Homo sapiens: one gene and its partner. The protein of the gene in region 1 interacts with the protein of each later gene in a biochemical or structural test. Each region holds a gene or a part of one and is shown on either strand. Other genes may lie near its edges.

Region 1 (7,399 bases):
GGGCATGACCTCGGCAAGGCAGTGGCTGGAGAGCGGGGCCAGGCAACCCTCTGGGAGGGGGACAGCCCATGGCAGGACTGCAAGGCCACCTGCGACGCTGCCTGCCACGTGGACACGTGCTGTGTGTCTGGAAGAACTCACAGGATTAATGTGTTTCCAAACTGCAGACTAGGTGAAAACTGAGAGTCTGGTGCCCCCAGAGGAAAAAGCCTTCTGTTTATATACACATGGCCACCAGCTAGGCAGATGGAGCACAGGGAGAGCCTCCCTACATTGTGTGTCAAACCTCAGACTGTAAACTTGACCCAAACACGGCACTTGAGATGAGAGGTCCGAGTGACAATCCAAGAAAATGCTACCTTAGAGGACGTGGGCCTTGCCTCTTGTGGGTTTCTGCTGTCTAGAAACATCCAGGGCTTACAAAATTATGTCAGAGCAACAAAGTAGAAAAGTTTCAGAAAGCTCAAAGGAAGAAAAAGACATCTCAAAGAATGCAAACACCATGTTATTATTTCTCTACTAAATTCCAATAGATGCAAGGCTTTCCTCAGCAATGTTTCTCAAACTTTAATGTGTATAGAATCACCCGAGGAACTGTAAAAATACAGATTCTCATTCAGTAGGCCTGGGATACAGCCCGCAATGCAGAGTCTCAACAAGTTCCTGGGTGCCATCGACACTGCTCACCTGCAGTCTGCAAGCAGAGGAGGAAGCAGTTGAAACTCTTTCATTTGAAATAATTCTCCCTAGCTGCTCTTCATATCATTACATAACATTCAAGTGGCAGGTTGGTTTCAATGTCTGCCTTTTTTCTTTCTTTTTTCCTTTTGAAATCATATTTCCCCAACAATACCTCTTCATCTAGGAAAGGTTAAGAAGTAAATACTGAGGCCAGGCGCGGTGGCTCCCGCCTGTAATCCCAGCACTTTGGGAGGCCGAGGTGGGTGGATCACGAGGTCAGAAGATCAAGACCATCCTGGCTAACACGGTGAAACCCCGTCTCTACTAAAGATACAAAAAATTAGCCGGGCGTGGTGACGAGCACCTGTAGTCCCAGCTACTCGGGAGGCTGAGGCAGGAGAATGGCGTGAACCTGGGAGGCGGAGCTTGCAGTGAGCTGAGATCGCACCACTGCACTCCAGCCTGGGCGACAGAGCAAGACTGTGTCTCAAAAAAAATAAAGTCTTGGGTAGCTTAAATTTGAATTGCACCTTTATCTAAAGAAGTGAGAGGCCTGTGCGGAAGAGAGATGTGTCCTGTGTGGGCACCATCATGAGTGTCCAGGAAAGAACATCTTTAATAGCTGGGCTTCTAGGGCTCCCTAGCTGTCTCAAACCATTGGATTTGCCAAAAGCAGGTTATAGTCATCCCATGAAGCTTTGATGTCTACGTCCCAATTTAAAAATCATCCCTGACCTCACTGTCAGCATAGCATGGAAGTTTCTGGATAGGACATCTGTTAGAAAACAGATTTAGAAAATAAGGAAAATCCACGCTACATAGAGAAAATTCAGTAGCATTGTCCTCCTGGGATTTTAGACTCCATCCAATTTGGGTGGTCCATCTCTGCCTCCATTTTCTGGCCAGAGAATCTACTTTATAATAGACATGTGGAGTTCAGAGATAGCATGCGGCAATCATGTAATGAATATCCCTAACAGAGGGTGCTTTGATTGGATTGGACTGCACACAGAAGTCTATACATTAATTACAGGGTTATGCAGGTAAACATCTGTCAACCCTTTCTAGTATTTTCATAGGGCCATTAAAAAAGACACCTGAGCATTTTCTCCCCACCCCGCCCCCCCACCCATGGTGGCATTTAGAAGCTGCAGCCAATATGAGCGAGAATGAAAACTGTCATCCAATTCCTTGGCAAAGCCACAGTCCACTGCAGACTCTTGGGTACAATCCCCAAGCCAGAAACCCAGGGTCTGAGTCACTTGCAGGAACTAGGACAGAGGGTGTGGGTCAATACACAAACTTAAAGAGTCCTAAACCGTTCTAGTTAAGTTAGGATTAAGTATTTCTCCAGGCGGTTCATTGATGACAGACGTGCCCTTTTGTCTTGGGCTCCTAGGGAAGTGGTAAGGCCAAGTTCACCAGCAGCTGGCTGAGGCTTTACTTATTGTCATGACCTGGAGGGTGCCCAGAAAAGCTCCAACTGTTGCCTCACCAAGCTGCGAAGTTATGCTGCGGCTGCCGTGGCTGTTAACCCCGCCCAGGAAGGCCGTGCAGGGCCAGCGTGCAGGCCTTTGTATTCTGCCCCCTGGTGCCCTGTTGAAACCTCAGTCCCGAAGATGACAGCGTATAGTGAGGCTTCAACGAGCCCCAGCCTTAGAGTGTCTTTACACTCTAACCTGTCCTACAAAGACCCCACTGGAAGAAATAGATATCTGGCTAGAGCTAGGCCCAAAGAGAAAAGTTGAGAATTCAGGCCGTTCACTGCCTCATCCAAACCCTTCTCCTAAGCATCTGGACACCTAAGGCTAAAAGCATCTGGGGAGTTTCTAAAATTAAATCTCCCAAGGATATTCTGTATGGCCCCTTGAATTGCTAAGTCATTATTAAGTGTGAGTCGACTCTGCAGTGGCAGCTGCACATTACAGCCCTCGGCTCTTAGGGCCCTTCCAGGGAATATTAAGTGTGGGAGAGAAAAATGAACCTGGTTTGGGGTTCAACTCAGGCTTGACTTTATTAGGGAGGGTAACAACACAGGCCCATTATGTTCATTATGTTCACAGGGGATTTGCACTGAGAAGCAATATGAAACACGCATCACATTTAAAGATTCACGAGCCTCATAAAAGAGATGTAGCACTATTATTCTTTTTTAGATGTTAGCAGTGTCAACATGTGGCCAGCTAACTTCTCACAAGTGTAAGAGAAAGCGGTCTGTTGAGTTTCAATTCCTGCTTTAGTCAAAACAGGAGTAAGTAAAAATTGTGTCTGTTCCTTTTGAAAGACTTGTGCCATGGAAGCTACTATCGTTGTGGGTCTTTGTGTGTGTGAAATTAAGTGGATGAGGGAAAACCGAGGGAGTGTTGTGGGAGTTCAGCCTTTCTGAAGTGCCTGTGCTGGCTACTGCAGCTTAGAATCCAGGACTGGCATTTACAACCCATCATCACACAGGTTCTCTTGACCCTATGTGTCGAAATTTCACGTGCGCAGAGTGCTATGGCGGATGTAGGCAGAGCAGAGCCAAATGAATAAGGTAGTAAATCAGGAAAATAAGCCTTTCTTCATCTTGGAACTACAAAACAAAATGACGTTTTAGTTGTCAGCAGGTAAAGCCAGTGGGGCCGGAAAATGAAATACGTGTGACCACAGTGGTTTGCCCACTTACAAAATTATCCTGTTTTTAGCATCTTCAAACAGGCATGTCTTTCTAAGGTAGAGGACGCGCTATATAATATTCATTAGTCAGCCCCAGGAGAAGTGTCTCCTCCTGGTTCCCCTTCTATTGTGGCATCCTCATGTGCTCAAAGTGTAGTTTTACCTACAGGTGTAAATTAGCCTATTGATTTGAATTGAACTAGAGAAAGGCAATACAGGGAGCTTTCCCAAGTGACAATACAAATAAACATCTGCAGAGTAACCACTGCTTTGTCCCAAATACAGAAATTCTCTCTGCTTTGTTTTCCTTTAGCTTCCTAATTTGTGTGTGTGTGTGTGTGTGTGTGTGTGTGTGTGTGTGTGTTAAGACTGTACTATGATTTTATCTCTTTACTGAAAGAGATACATACTAAAGTTGTCCATTTAGGGGGAATAAAACCACATAATTTTGGTTTCATTAAAACAGTCCTTTTATTTCAAAAGTAAAATTCTTTCCCTTTCCCAGGCTTTAAAATACCTGTGAGTTGCCAGCCCGTTGTAGGGGTCAGACTCTCACCAAAACATTTCTTTTTATTTATTTTTCCCTTTTATAGTTTCACTTATGCCATGATAGACGTTACCAAGGACTTAACTCTCCCGGAGCTGATGCCTAGCATTTTAAATGATGGGATCCACATCCTGTCGGAGCAGCGGCTTGATGCCAGCGTTGAATTACTATTGAATAAGCAGCAATGAAATCTTTATCAAAATAATCAGTAGTTCCAAAAACCACAAATAACAACAGGAGCCGAGTTGTACTAAATCAGCAAAGACCATTGAGATATAATAAGTGACTGAGTCACTTTTTTCTACATCCCCCCCTCTTGCAAAGTCTACTCGGCTATTTTCTTGCACAGCCTGGGGGAGGGCAGGTGGAGGGAAGGAAGGGCATTGCTCAGAAAAGAAAAAAAAAAATTGACATCACTTAAGTCACATGATTGGCAAGAACCAATTGAGATGGGCTGTGGAAAGGGGAACAGTTAAATTTGTAATTTGGGTTGTGTGAAAACTTCTTTGGGCCTCATAAACAACCACAGAACCACAAGTTGGGTAGCCTGGCAGTGTCAGAAGTCTGAACCCAGCATAGTGGTCAGCAGGCAGGACGAATCACACTGAATGCAAACCACAGGGTTTCGCAGCGTGGTGAGCATCACCAACCCACAGCCAAGGCGGCGCTGGCTTTTTTTTTTTTTTTAATCTTTAACAATTTGAATATTTGTTTTTACAAAGGTGCATTTTTTAATAGGGCTTGGGGAGTCCCAGAGGTATCCAGCAGAGGGGAGAAGAAAGAGAGATGTAGGGCTAGAGGGGTGAGGCTGAAACAGTGACCTGTCTTGGTTTTCGCTCCGAAGGTAAAAGAAATCATTGAGTCCCCCGCCTTCAGAAGAGGGTGCATTTTCAGGAGGAAGCGATGGCTTCAGACAGCATATTTGAGTCATTTCCTTCGTACCCACAGTGCTTCATGAGAGGTGAGTACATGCTGGTCTTGTAATATCTACTTTTGCTCAGCTTTGCCTGTAATGAAATGGCAGCTTGTTTCACCTCGGTGCAGAGATGCCTCGGTGCCTGCCAGTTCCCTGTCTTGTTTGTGAGAGGAATTCAAACTGAGGCATATGATTACAAGTCTATTGGATTACTTACTAATCAGATGGAAGCTCTTCAGAAATGTTTTAATAAATACTTAGTTATGCTGTTGGAGTGTTCAGTCGGTGCGTGAGAACTTTGTCAAGTGCGAGTAAGTTGTGCTGGTCTTGTTTAAAGGCTTAGAGATTATGAAGCTTGCACGAAGCTCCCTGGGTTTTATTTTGCTGTCCCTTGCCCGGAATGCCTGTGTCTGAGTTATCCTTAACTCGGCATGCTGTGTGGCCCAGAATGCAGCCTGCCCTGGGGCTTAGCAGGCACATGCACAGAGCCAGCCAGGAGGGCTGGTGCCAGTGTGGGGCAGGAGGCGGAGGCTCTCAGATAGCCTTGCACCAGCCTGGGGACTTCAGGGCCAAAGTGGCAAGGCAGCTGTCTCTATAAGGCAGAGAGTACAGGAGACTGACAGACTTGGTTAGGTTAAAATCATCAGCATGGGGCTGTGCTGTGTTTTTCCTTGTAGCCTCAATGCAAAGAGACAACCAGCATCTTTCAAGAGAGAAAGGAAGCAAATTGTGGCATACCGAGGTCTCTCTGGAAAAGGGCAATAGAGAAGTTTCCCGAGTTAAGCATTCTCGCAGCTTAAGTCGTTAGATTACAGGCTTATGAATAGGAACAGCCAGGGTGGAAAACCTGTCTCCATTTTTGAAACCAGCCTCTTGAAATGGACAAAGCTGTGGTTGAGCTGTGAGTGTGTGAGTATGTGTGTGCATGTGCGTCTTGTGTATCTTTCGTGGTAAAAGAGGGCTGTGCTTAAACAAACAAAAATAATAACATAAAATGTCTCAAAGGCATTGCCGTGTGCGTCGGGGCACGCACTCTGACCAGTGCCTGCAAAGTGTATCTTGATGGTTTGGCAAAGCTGAGATGGAGTGGGCTGGGATGGGAGAATAATTAATTTTCTGGCTACAAACTCTCTTGAGCACCCAAATTGTATCTGTGACTCATTATTTATTCATACAGCTAAGTGAGCAGGGGAATGCAGAGGGCTTGCCGGCCACTTTATCACAGCAAATGCTATTGTGAATGCACGGGGCTGTATGTTTCCGGGTCCCTGAAATTAAAAAACTTGATGAGAGAGAGAGAGAGAGAGAGAGAGAGAGAGAGAGAGTGTGTGTGTGTGTGTGTGTGTGTGTGTGTGTGTGTGTGTGTGTGTGTTGGAGATGGCAAGAGAGAAGTTAAAGAGAAAGAGAAGAAAACAAGTCATTAACCAAGCTCAAGTTTCAAATTAAAGAGTTTTCAAGTGCTTCTTTACTGGCAGCAGAGGGAATTTTAGTGAAGTTGAATCATGCAGACGTGCGTTAGTCACTAGTCTTGCAGCGTCGTTTGGTTGGTAACACAGAGACACCGGCCACTGGTGAAAAGCTGCAAACGGCTCCCTGGCTGCATTTCCTCTGGGCTGCTAACAAGCAGAGGAAGCAATATTTGTATAGAATAACAGAAAAAAAAGATCTTCCTGGCTTTACTCTGCTTTCAGTACCCCCTCAGAACGTGTATTGTTTCCTATTTTATCAACTCAGGAAGGCAGATTCAGGAAATTTTTAAGCATTCCATTGAGCAATAGGTTGGGTTTCAGTGTGCAGTGCTGGCCCCTGGGGCTCTCCTTACTGGCCAACGGCAAAGATGGTGAGGGACACGCTGAGCTATGCAGACATCAGGAAATAGCAGGAGTCTGGCTATCTCCCGGACAAGCCCAGGGCTCCTGTGCCCGATGGACACTCAGCTGACCTGCGCTAGGTTAGGAACAAGGGTCGGTTAGCTTTCACGGAGGCAGTGTAGGGAGGGCCTGAGCTCGCACCAAGACTCAAAAGGGATCATCTGGAAAGGTTTTTCCACTCCTTCCTTTCAGTGAAAGGAACTCAGGGTTCTTTAGAATCTCTAATTTGGTAATATAATATTGAGATTTGATGTCAGAGGGCCAAGTGAAATCTTGGCAATTTCCTGGTTAATTTCATCCAAGTGATCCATCAACATAAAGGTTTAAATTGTCCAGGTTAACTGTCCACATCATTCACCCAAGCCGGAGAGGTAGCAAAATATCATTTCTTTTGATACCGTTTGGTCATCATCTTAGAGCTTGATGCTAGAAGAATCACCATCCCTGCCAACAAATGGCTCTCCCCCAGAGTTCTCAGCCTGTTGCCATAGCTGGGCCACTCGCAGTGGTCAATGCGGTCACTTCTGGCTGCCTATAATTTACAGCGTGTGTTCCCTCCCCAACGGCAACTGTGAGCCGAAAGGGAAGACAGCATCTTTGTTTTCTTCCTGGGATGGTACTTTATCAGTCCATGCAATTCTCACAGAAGGAAACCTGTAACTCATTTTTAGCCAGATACCCATGTGGAAATTGGGGGGAAAGAGAGGAGTGAAGCCAAGCAAACCATTG
Region 2 (8,018 bases), on another chromosome or scaffold:
CTCATCTCCTGGTATGAATGTCCTTGTGTAGTACTCTCCCACACTGAATTAGGATCAATCTGTGTGACCAAGAGAATACAACAGAAGTGATGGTATGTGACTCCAGAAGTTAGGTCAGAAAAGGCAGCATAGCTTCCACTATATTCTCTTGGACTTGGAATGTCATAAGGGACAATTACCTCATTTAATCAAACATAACTCGTACTTCCAAGGATTTGCCTGAGAATGTGAAGTTGAAAGGTTGGGAGAGGGAAATGACTTACTGGCCACTACTCAGAATTTTGTCTTCTCTTCTGTTCCTCATGTTGATTGTCACTGCCACCCCCATACTGAGCCCTAAAGTGTCATCCTACCATTTAATATTCTGATATAAAAGCAGGAAAATCTCTTCCTTTGGTTAGTCTATTATACTGAAGGCAGAATGAAATTTTATTTGTTTTATTTTGTTTATTTATTTTTGAGACAGGATCTCACTCTGTCACCCAGGCTGCAGTGGGGTGGTGAGAGCACAGCACGCTGCAACCTCAAACTCCTGGGCTCATGTGATCCTTCTGCCTCAGCCTCCCCAGTAGCTGGGACTACATATCCATACCACCACACCTGGCTAACTTTATTTTATTTTCTTTGTAGAGATGGGGTCTCAAACTATGTGATCCTCCTGCCCATGCTGGTCTTGAACTTCTGGGCTCAATGATCCTCCCACCTTGGCCTCTCAAAGTGCTGGGATTACAGATGTAGCCACAGCACCCAGCCAAGGATGAAATAATTTTAAAAAAAATCACTTTCCTATATATTGAAGAAAACAAAGGGAGAAATAACACAGAGAAAAGAAGTATAAAAGCATTATACCTAATATGCATATAATCATTTATATTTAGTATATAAATATATGTATATGTATATACATGCACAGAAAAAGGCCTAGAAGCTTAAAGGCTAAATTTTCATTTATGGTTATCTGTGGAAAAGTAGAGGTAGGGGATGGCTGCGTAAGTGTGAAGGGTAAGTGAGAAGTGGGAAGGGAAATGGAGAGGGAAGGTGAACTTGGGTTTTAAAAAGTTTATTTTGAATTATTTGAAAATTGATGATGAGAATGTATTAATGAATCATTGTATAATTAAAAAATAAACTATAATAAAAATAATTAAATAAAATATAAAAATAATTAAAAAATAAACTATATAACATAAAAAACTATATAACATAAAAAACAGCAAAAGCAATCCAGTTACAACAGAGATTTCCTATTCCATGATCATTAGCTTGCTACTAGGACTACTGGTCACACTAGACTTTTCCTTCTGACCCCTGTTCTCTAGAATGCTTTACTGTAAACCAGGGGTGTCCAATCTTTTGGCTTTCCAGGGCCACACTGGAAGAATTATTATCTTGGGCCACACATTAAATACACTAACACTAATGATAGCTGATGAGCTTAAAAAAAAAATCGCAAAAAAGTATTTTAAGAAAGTTTACAAATTTGTGTTGGGCTGCATTCAAAGCGGTCCAGGGCCGCATGCAGCCTGCAGGCCCTGGGTTGGACAAGCTTGCTGTAAAATTTCTGGGTTCCTTACTCCGCTGGCCTCCATAAGGGATGTGTTTAAGAACCATAGCCAAAGAGCTGCCTGAGACACACCAAGTTAGGCACCTTGCAGGCCAATATGAAGGAAGCAGATTGCTCTTTCTGCTGTTGTTTCAGTCAGCTATCACAACACTAATTCCAGGAACCAACTACTCCAAAACACTATTACTCCAAAACGCTATTACTCCAAAACACGGCTTGAAACAACAATCCTTTATTCTCTAGGTTGCTGACCCCAAGCTGGGACTGGCTTCAGACCTGCTTCATATTTCTTTGACCAGCAAACTAGCCAGGTATGTTCTTCACATTGTGAAAAACAAGAGTGCCAGAGAGGGAAGGAGAAACATGAAATACCTCTTGAGGCCAGGCTCAGAACTGTCACACTCACTTCTGCCTATCTTCCTTTGACCAAAAGCAAATGGACTGATCTAAGCTCAACATGAACAGGATGGAGAAACATCCTATCTCTACTGAGAGGAACTACAAAGCCGTATTTCAAATGGCATGCATGCATGGAGTAGTGAAAAATTGGGAACAATAATGTTATCTACCACTGTTATCCACCTGGGACTTTCCAGCTTACTGCCAATCGGCAGTGGGAGAGAATTTCTTCTCAACGTGGCTGACAACAGAAATTATGTGACTTGGCAGGTGATATCTGTCCCTAACAACAGGAATCAGTCTTTGTCTTTGCCGGCTCCTTAGTATGCTATGTTATGTTATGAAGATGCAATATTATTGATTATTAATTAATTCCTTACAAATATCAAATTGGGCAATGGTTCCCATAAGTGATAAGTTATTTACAAGAAGTGAGATAAAAAGACTCCCTTAGAAAGGGTGCTCTGTTTGCAGAATCCTGTTTATTGTGTATTAAAGATTTGAATGTTACCAAATTGTTACAAATTCTTTAGTTCAAAAGGGTGTCAACAGTCCCATGATTTAGAACTCAGGAATCCAGAAAACTTTGTCAAGAGTTAAGAGGATCTTTGATTAACAGTCACGGTCTCCAGGTTTCCTCTGTGTTCAAGAGTAAAAATTTCTTAAATAAGAATAAGAGCCCTCGGACTTGCTTTTTTTTGAGACGGAGTTTCGCTCTCGTTGCCCAGGCTAGAGTGCAATGGTGCGATCTGGGCTCACTGCAACCTCCGCCTCTCGGGTTCAAGCGATTCTCCTGCCTCAGCCTCCCGAGTAGCTGGAATTACAGGCACACACCACCACACCCGGCTAATTTTTTGTATTTTTAGTAGAGACGGGGTTTCACCGTGTTAGCCAGGATGGTCTTGAACTTCTGACCTCAGGTGATCCGCCCGCCTCGGCCTTCTAGAGTGCTGGGATTACAGGAGTGAGCCACCGCGCCCGGCCTTTTTTTTTTTTTTTTTTTTTTTTTGAGAAGGAGTCTTGCTCTGTCGCCCAGGCTGGAGTGTAGTGTTGCGATCTCGGCTCACTGCAACCTCTACCTCCGGGGTTCAAGCGATTCTCCTGCCTCCCGAGGAGCTGGGACTACAGGCGTGTGCCACCACGCCCAGCTAATTTTTGTATTTTTAGTGGAGACGGGGTTTCACCATGTTAGGCAGGCTGGTCTCGAACTCCTGACCTCAGGCAATCCACCCTCCAGGGCCTCCCAAAGTGCTGGGATTACAGGCGTGAGCCACTGCGCCCGGCCCAGAGTTGCTTTTTAAGAAAGGAAGAGAAGACTCACCCCCAAGAAAATAGAGGCAACAGCAGTATTAACAAAAGAAAGAGATCATTACATTCTTAGGCTCTTCAGGGATTTAAATCTGGAGCCTCCTGCAGCTTTCTGACATTTGAGCCTTACTCTAGGGTGATTTCCACGGTTCCCACGTCCCTTTCAAGAGAACAGCTATCACTTATATTCCTCAGTGTTTCTTCTTTGCTCCAGACTGGTTGTGAAGCCGTAAAAAGGGTAACGCTGGAGCCCAGAAATCAGCTGGTGAATACCGCGCCAGGTGCCAGGTCCATCGCGGCGAGGCTGCAGGAGCCCTGGAGGGGAGCAAAAGGAGCCCCGCGCGCACCGGACAGGCTGTGCTCTTTGTTAAAGAAACAAATACAGAAAACGCCGCGGCGGGGAATGGTGGTGGTGAAGAAATAGACTGAGGCGTTTGTATGCATTAACTGTGCCTACAAAGCCCATTAAAGAGACGCTCCTACACAGGGCAACCCACGGCACCGTGTCATTGGCTTTTGTGCACTTGAAGGCGCGTGAGAGTGCCCCGCTCGAAGGCTCCCCTTTGTGTGAAAGTGTGGAAACCAGAAGCGTGCAGCCACTGCTGGGTTTTCGTTTTCGAATTCGCAGGCACTTGGGCCAAAATACTCCCACACCAGAACACTCTCTCATTCTCGCACCAACAACACTCAGACTTGAGTTACTTCTCCGTTGCGGACCGCGCAAGGAGCGACAATGGCTAGGTGCGAGTGCCCGCAGCTCCCCGGGCAGCTCCAAGGGGCCGCCCGCCGCGCTCCGCAGCTGCGCGCTGGGCCCAGCCACCCGACAGCCAGCAAACGCCGGCACCAACCGCCGCGCGGCCGGGCTGTTGGGCGGGTGGTAATTTCTGGGAATGGGGCGGGGTCGCGGGTGTACTACGCCCGGCTTTTGCTAGCGGGGAGGAGGAGCTGGCGGCGCCGAGGGGCGCGAGGCTGGCGGGGCGGTGCGCCACGTGCGTCACCGGCCGGGGCGGGGCCGGCGTCGCGCTCCTGCCCGAACCCCCACCTTTCACTAAGCCAAGGCTGAGGAGTGGGAACTGGAAAGACCGGGCTAGGAGTTTTTGCAAAACCTCGCCCCCCTGTAACTGTCAGACTGCCCGACTGTGGGGCCGTCTCCGGAGAAGGGCGAGAGTCCTGAGTTGGGGATGCGGTGACGGCGGGGCCTGCGGGGGCCCTGAGTGGCGAGGGTGTGTGCGTGCGGTCCCGGCCGGCGGGGGAAAGCCGGCGGGCGCTGCAGGTGCACGCGCGGCCCCATCGGCCTCACACGCCTGCCCCGTGCGGCAGAGCCCCCTGCACCAATCCGGGGCTGGAGTGGAGAGCGAGATCGGGGAGCCCTGGGCAAGGAGCCGGACAAGTGACGAGCGTCTTTACCTGGGAAGGCGGGTTTGGGAGAAGTTGGGCGAGGAGAAGAGGGCGGGATTCAAGACAGCAAAAGAAGCAGGTTCGGCGGGCTGGTGGGGGCCCGAGGGCGGCGGGGCCCCGCGGGGTATAAATAGCCGGCCCGCGTTTGACAGGCGCTGCGGTGACTGGCGGTGCCGCCCCCGCCCCCCCGCCGCGTGGGGAGGGGAGGAGCACTCTGAGCTGGCGGGGAGGGGGAGGCGGACTCCAGTGTCCTGGTGGAGGCGGCAGGAGGCCGAGGGGGAGGAGCCGAGGCGGGGGGTGGAGGGAGGGGGCCGGGAGCGGAGCGGGGCGGGGGCAACCATTGCTCCCAGCGCCAAGCTCTGTGTCGCCGCCGTCGCCTAGGCGGTTGGGGGTCGGTGGGGCGGCGCGGGCGGGGGTCGCTGCGCGGGGCGGCGAGCCTCTGTTTTGTCTCCTTCTCTCCCTGTGGAGCGGCTCGGGCTGCTGGGGAGGCCCCGGCTCCCTCCGGACGCTCGGCCAACGGCGGCGGCTAGTCCGCGGCCCTGCTGAGAGGGAAAAGGACGCCGCGGTCTTCCCAGGCGTCGCGGAGAGCAGGTAAGAGCGCGGGCAGCCGAGGCTGGTGAGAGGGAGCGCGAAGGGCGCGGCGATAAAGCCTGGCTGTCCCGACTGCCGCCGCCTCCCTCCGCGCCCCCGCCCCGCGCTTGTGTTGTTTGCTTCGGGGTTTGCGGAGGGGTTTTCCGGCGGCTGCGGCGGTGACACCGGCCGGGGGCTGGGGGAAGGGGGCTGAGTGTCCCCAGGCAACGGTCGCGGAGCGGGACTTGGAGAAAGGGGAAGGCGCGCTGCGCGCCTGCCCGCGGGGAGCGCGGGGCGCGGGGCAGGGCTGAGGGAAGAGGTTACAGACCCCGGCGGGGGGGATGGGCCGAGCGCAGCTGGTCTCTCCGTGTTTACATCTCTGCGCGAGTCACCTCTGCCGAGAAGCGGACTGAACTGACCCGCCTCATCCCGCGGGGAGGCCAGGGCGGGGGTCCGGCTCCGGAGGAAGCGCGTCCTGGGAGGGTTTGTGTAGGGCGGGAGTCTGCGGCCGGCGCCGGGGCTGGGCGGCGAGCTCGGGGCGGGACCTGGGAGGCTCCGGCCGCTCTGGGTGGCGGGCAGGCGGGGGGGGGCGCTGGACACCAGTTTCCTTCCCTGTCGTGCCTTATCGCCGCCGCTTACCTTTCCTTCCCGGCGCTGCTAGCTTGCACGACAGGTTGTACTCGGCAGTTCTTTTATTCTCGCTCTCCACGCCGGCACCGTGCTGCCATCTCCCCCTATTCCCCGGGAGGTAGGGAGGCTTTGCTCGGATCGGAATCTGTTTCTTAAGCAAAACAAAAACGGGCTCGTAACAGGCACGTCCAGTGACCGCCTTCTGGATCCTCGCGAAGCTGGTCCTCAGGGACCGCGCGACGGGATGGTCTAGGGGCGCGGAAGGAGGACAGGGAGGGCTCTGCCAGGGCTGGATGCTGACTCTACCCCAGGAGCTTTGTGATCAGGGTAGCCGAGCCCTCTCTTCTGCTCCATTTGGGCATTTTTATTCCATGTCCATAAAGGACTCAAAAAATATTCCGTGACACCAAGAATAATCCAGATCGCACAGTTTCTAATCTTTTTCCCTCTGCCAGCATCCTGGATGGACTCTTTCTAGGAGGCAGATTCGCTGCAGAATAGCCTTTAAGTTTAGTACTTCATTAAATGAGGAAGAGGGGGACACGTCATTGTAAAACTGTTAAAAATTCCCCCCTTTCTTGTGTTCATGAACATTTACTTCAGCTTAATGGTTTAAATTGTAATCCGGTGATGAGAGAATAGTAATCGTGTGTTTGATAATCAGATTTGTTTTCCTTTTTATCTGTGATTCTCTATCCTGAAGTAAATTATGCACTTTCTTTGGTGCCAGAATCACGGAAGGATGTATGCTTTACTAAGAAAGGATTGGATATTTGTGTTTCAGAGTTTCTTCAAAAGGTAGAATGACTTATATAGGACTGGAAACCATTAAATTACATTTAAGGGAATTTAGGAATAATAAAACTTTTTATAGAGCATTACAGTTTACAGAGTACATTCATGTAAATATTATTGAGACGATATCTAGTAGTTAAACACATGAAATAGAAAATTGGAATATCCTGGGCATTTGAAGTTTGAATATTTATGTCAACCTATTTTTAAGTTTAGTGATTTAACTCATTGGATTTATCATTGCCTTTCATTTCAGACATAAATACTCATTTACAAAATAGTCAGCTTGAGTATGGTTGGAAAGAATTTGTAACTTTGGGATTTTTCTGTCCTAAGTAAACAGATTGGTACCTGTGGCCTGTAGGGTCTGCTAATGTTAGTGGCTTTACCTGCTCATGTTGTATACCATTTTTGGAGGAGTAACAGCTTCACGATGATATAATTCACATACTAGTCAGTTCAGTTTAAAGTGTACAGTTTGGTGGGTTTATTAATTTTTTAAAAAATTACTCCATTTTGCAGGTGAACAATTCAGTGGTTTTTACTACAATTGTCCATCGGTATCTGTTGGGGATTTGTTCTAGGGCCTTCCTCAGACACCAGAATCTATGGATGCTCAGGTCCCTAAAATAAAATGGCATAGTTGCTGGGTGCAGTGGCTTGTGCCTGTAATCCCAGTTATTCAGGAGGCTGAGGTGGGAGGATCTCTTGAGGCCAGAGTTTGGACACCAACCTGGGTGACAGAGCAAAATCCTGTCTCCTAGGAAAAATGAATAAAACTGACATAGTATTTGCATATAAACTCTGCATATTCTCTTGTATGCTTTAAATCATCTCCACATCACTCATACTACCTAATACAATGTGGATGCTATGTAAATAGTTGTTATACTGTGTATTGTTTAGGGAATAATGACCAGAAAAAAGTCTGTACATGTTCATTTACAGACATAATTTTTTTTTGAGTAGTTTCTGTACCTCATTGATTGAATCCATGTATTCAGAACTCATGGATATGGAGGGCCGACTGTATATTCAGAGTTGTGCAGCCATCACTATACTCAATTTTACAGCATTTTAATCATCCCCCAAAAGAGCCCCATATCCATTAACAGTCGCTTTTCATTTTCCCTCAGCACTCCCAGTCCTATGCAACCACTGATCGACTTTCTATCATTATAGATTAGACTGTTGTGGACATTTTATGTAAATGAAACCATAAATGCGGTCTTTTGTGACTGGCTTCTTTCGTTTAGCATAATGCTTTCAAAGTATATCCATGTTGTAATATGTGTCAGTACTTCATTTCTTTTTTTTTTAAAATCTATTTTCTTTCTTTCTTTTTTTTTTTTTT

The links. Proteins that work in one complex are often made in the same cells at the same time.
Region 2: the proteins of RUNX1 (region 1) and ELF2 form a complex in vitro, tested with the Homo sapiens proteins (2 studies listed by BioGRID and IntAct).

The regions. Positions count from the first base shown.
Region 1 is NC_000021.9:35,046,287-35,053,685, reverse strand, and holds the start of RUNX1 (runt-related transcription factor 1), read left to right. Parts: upstream 1-4,383; 5' UTR 4,384-4,518; exon of another isoform or gene 4,519-4,727; 5' UTR 4,728-4,786; coding exon 4,787-4,844; intron 4,845-7,399.
Region 2 is NC_000004.12:139,174,209-139,182,226, reverse strand, and holds the start of ELF2 (ETS-related transcription factor Elf-2), read left to right. Parts: upstream 1-5,008; 5' UTR 5,009-5,260; intron 5,261-5,660; exon of another isoform or gene 5,661-5,722; intron 5,723-5,878; exon of another isoform or gene 5,879-6,072; intron 6,073-8,018. UniProt on the Homo sapiens protein: Isoform 1 transcriptionally activates the LYN and BLK promoters and acts synergistically with RUNX1 to transactivate the BLK promoter. Isoform 2 may function in repression of RUNX1-mediated transactivation.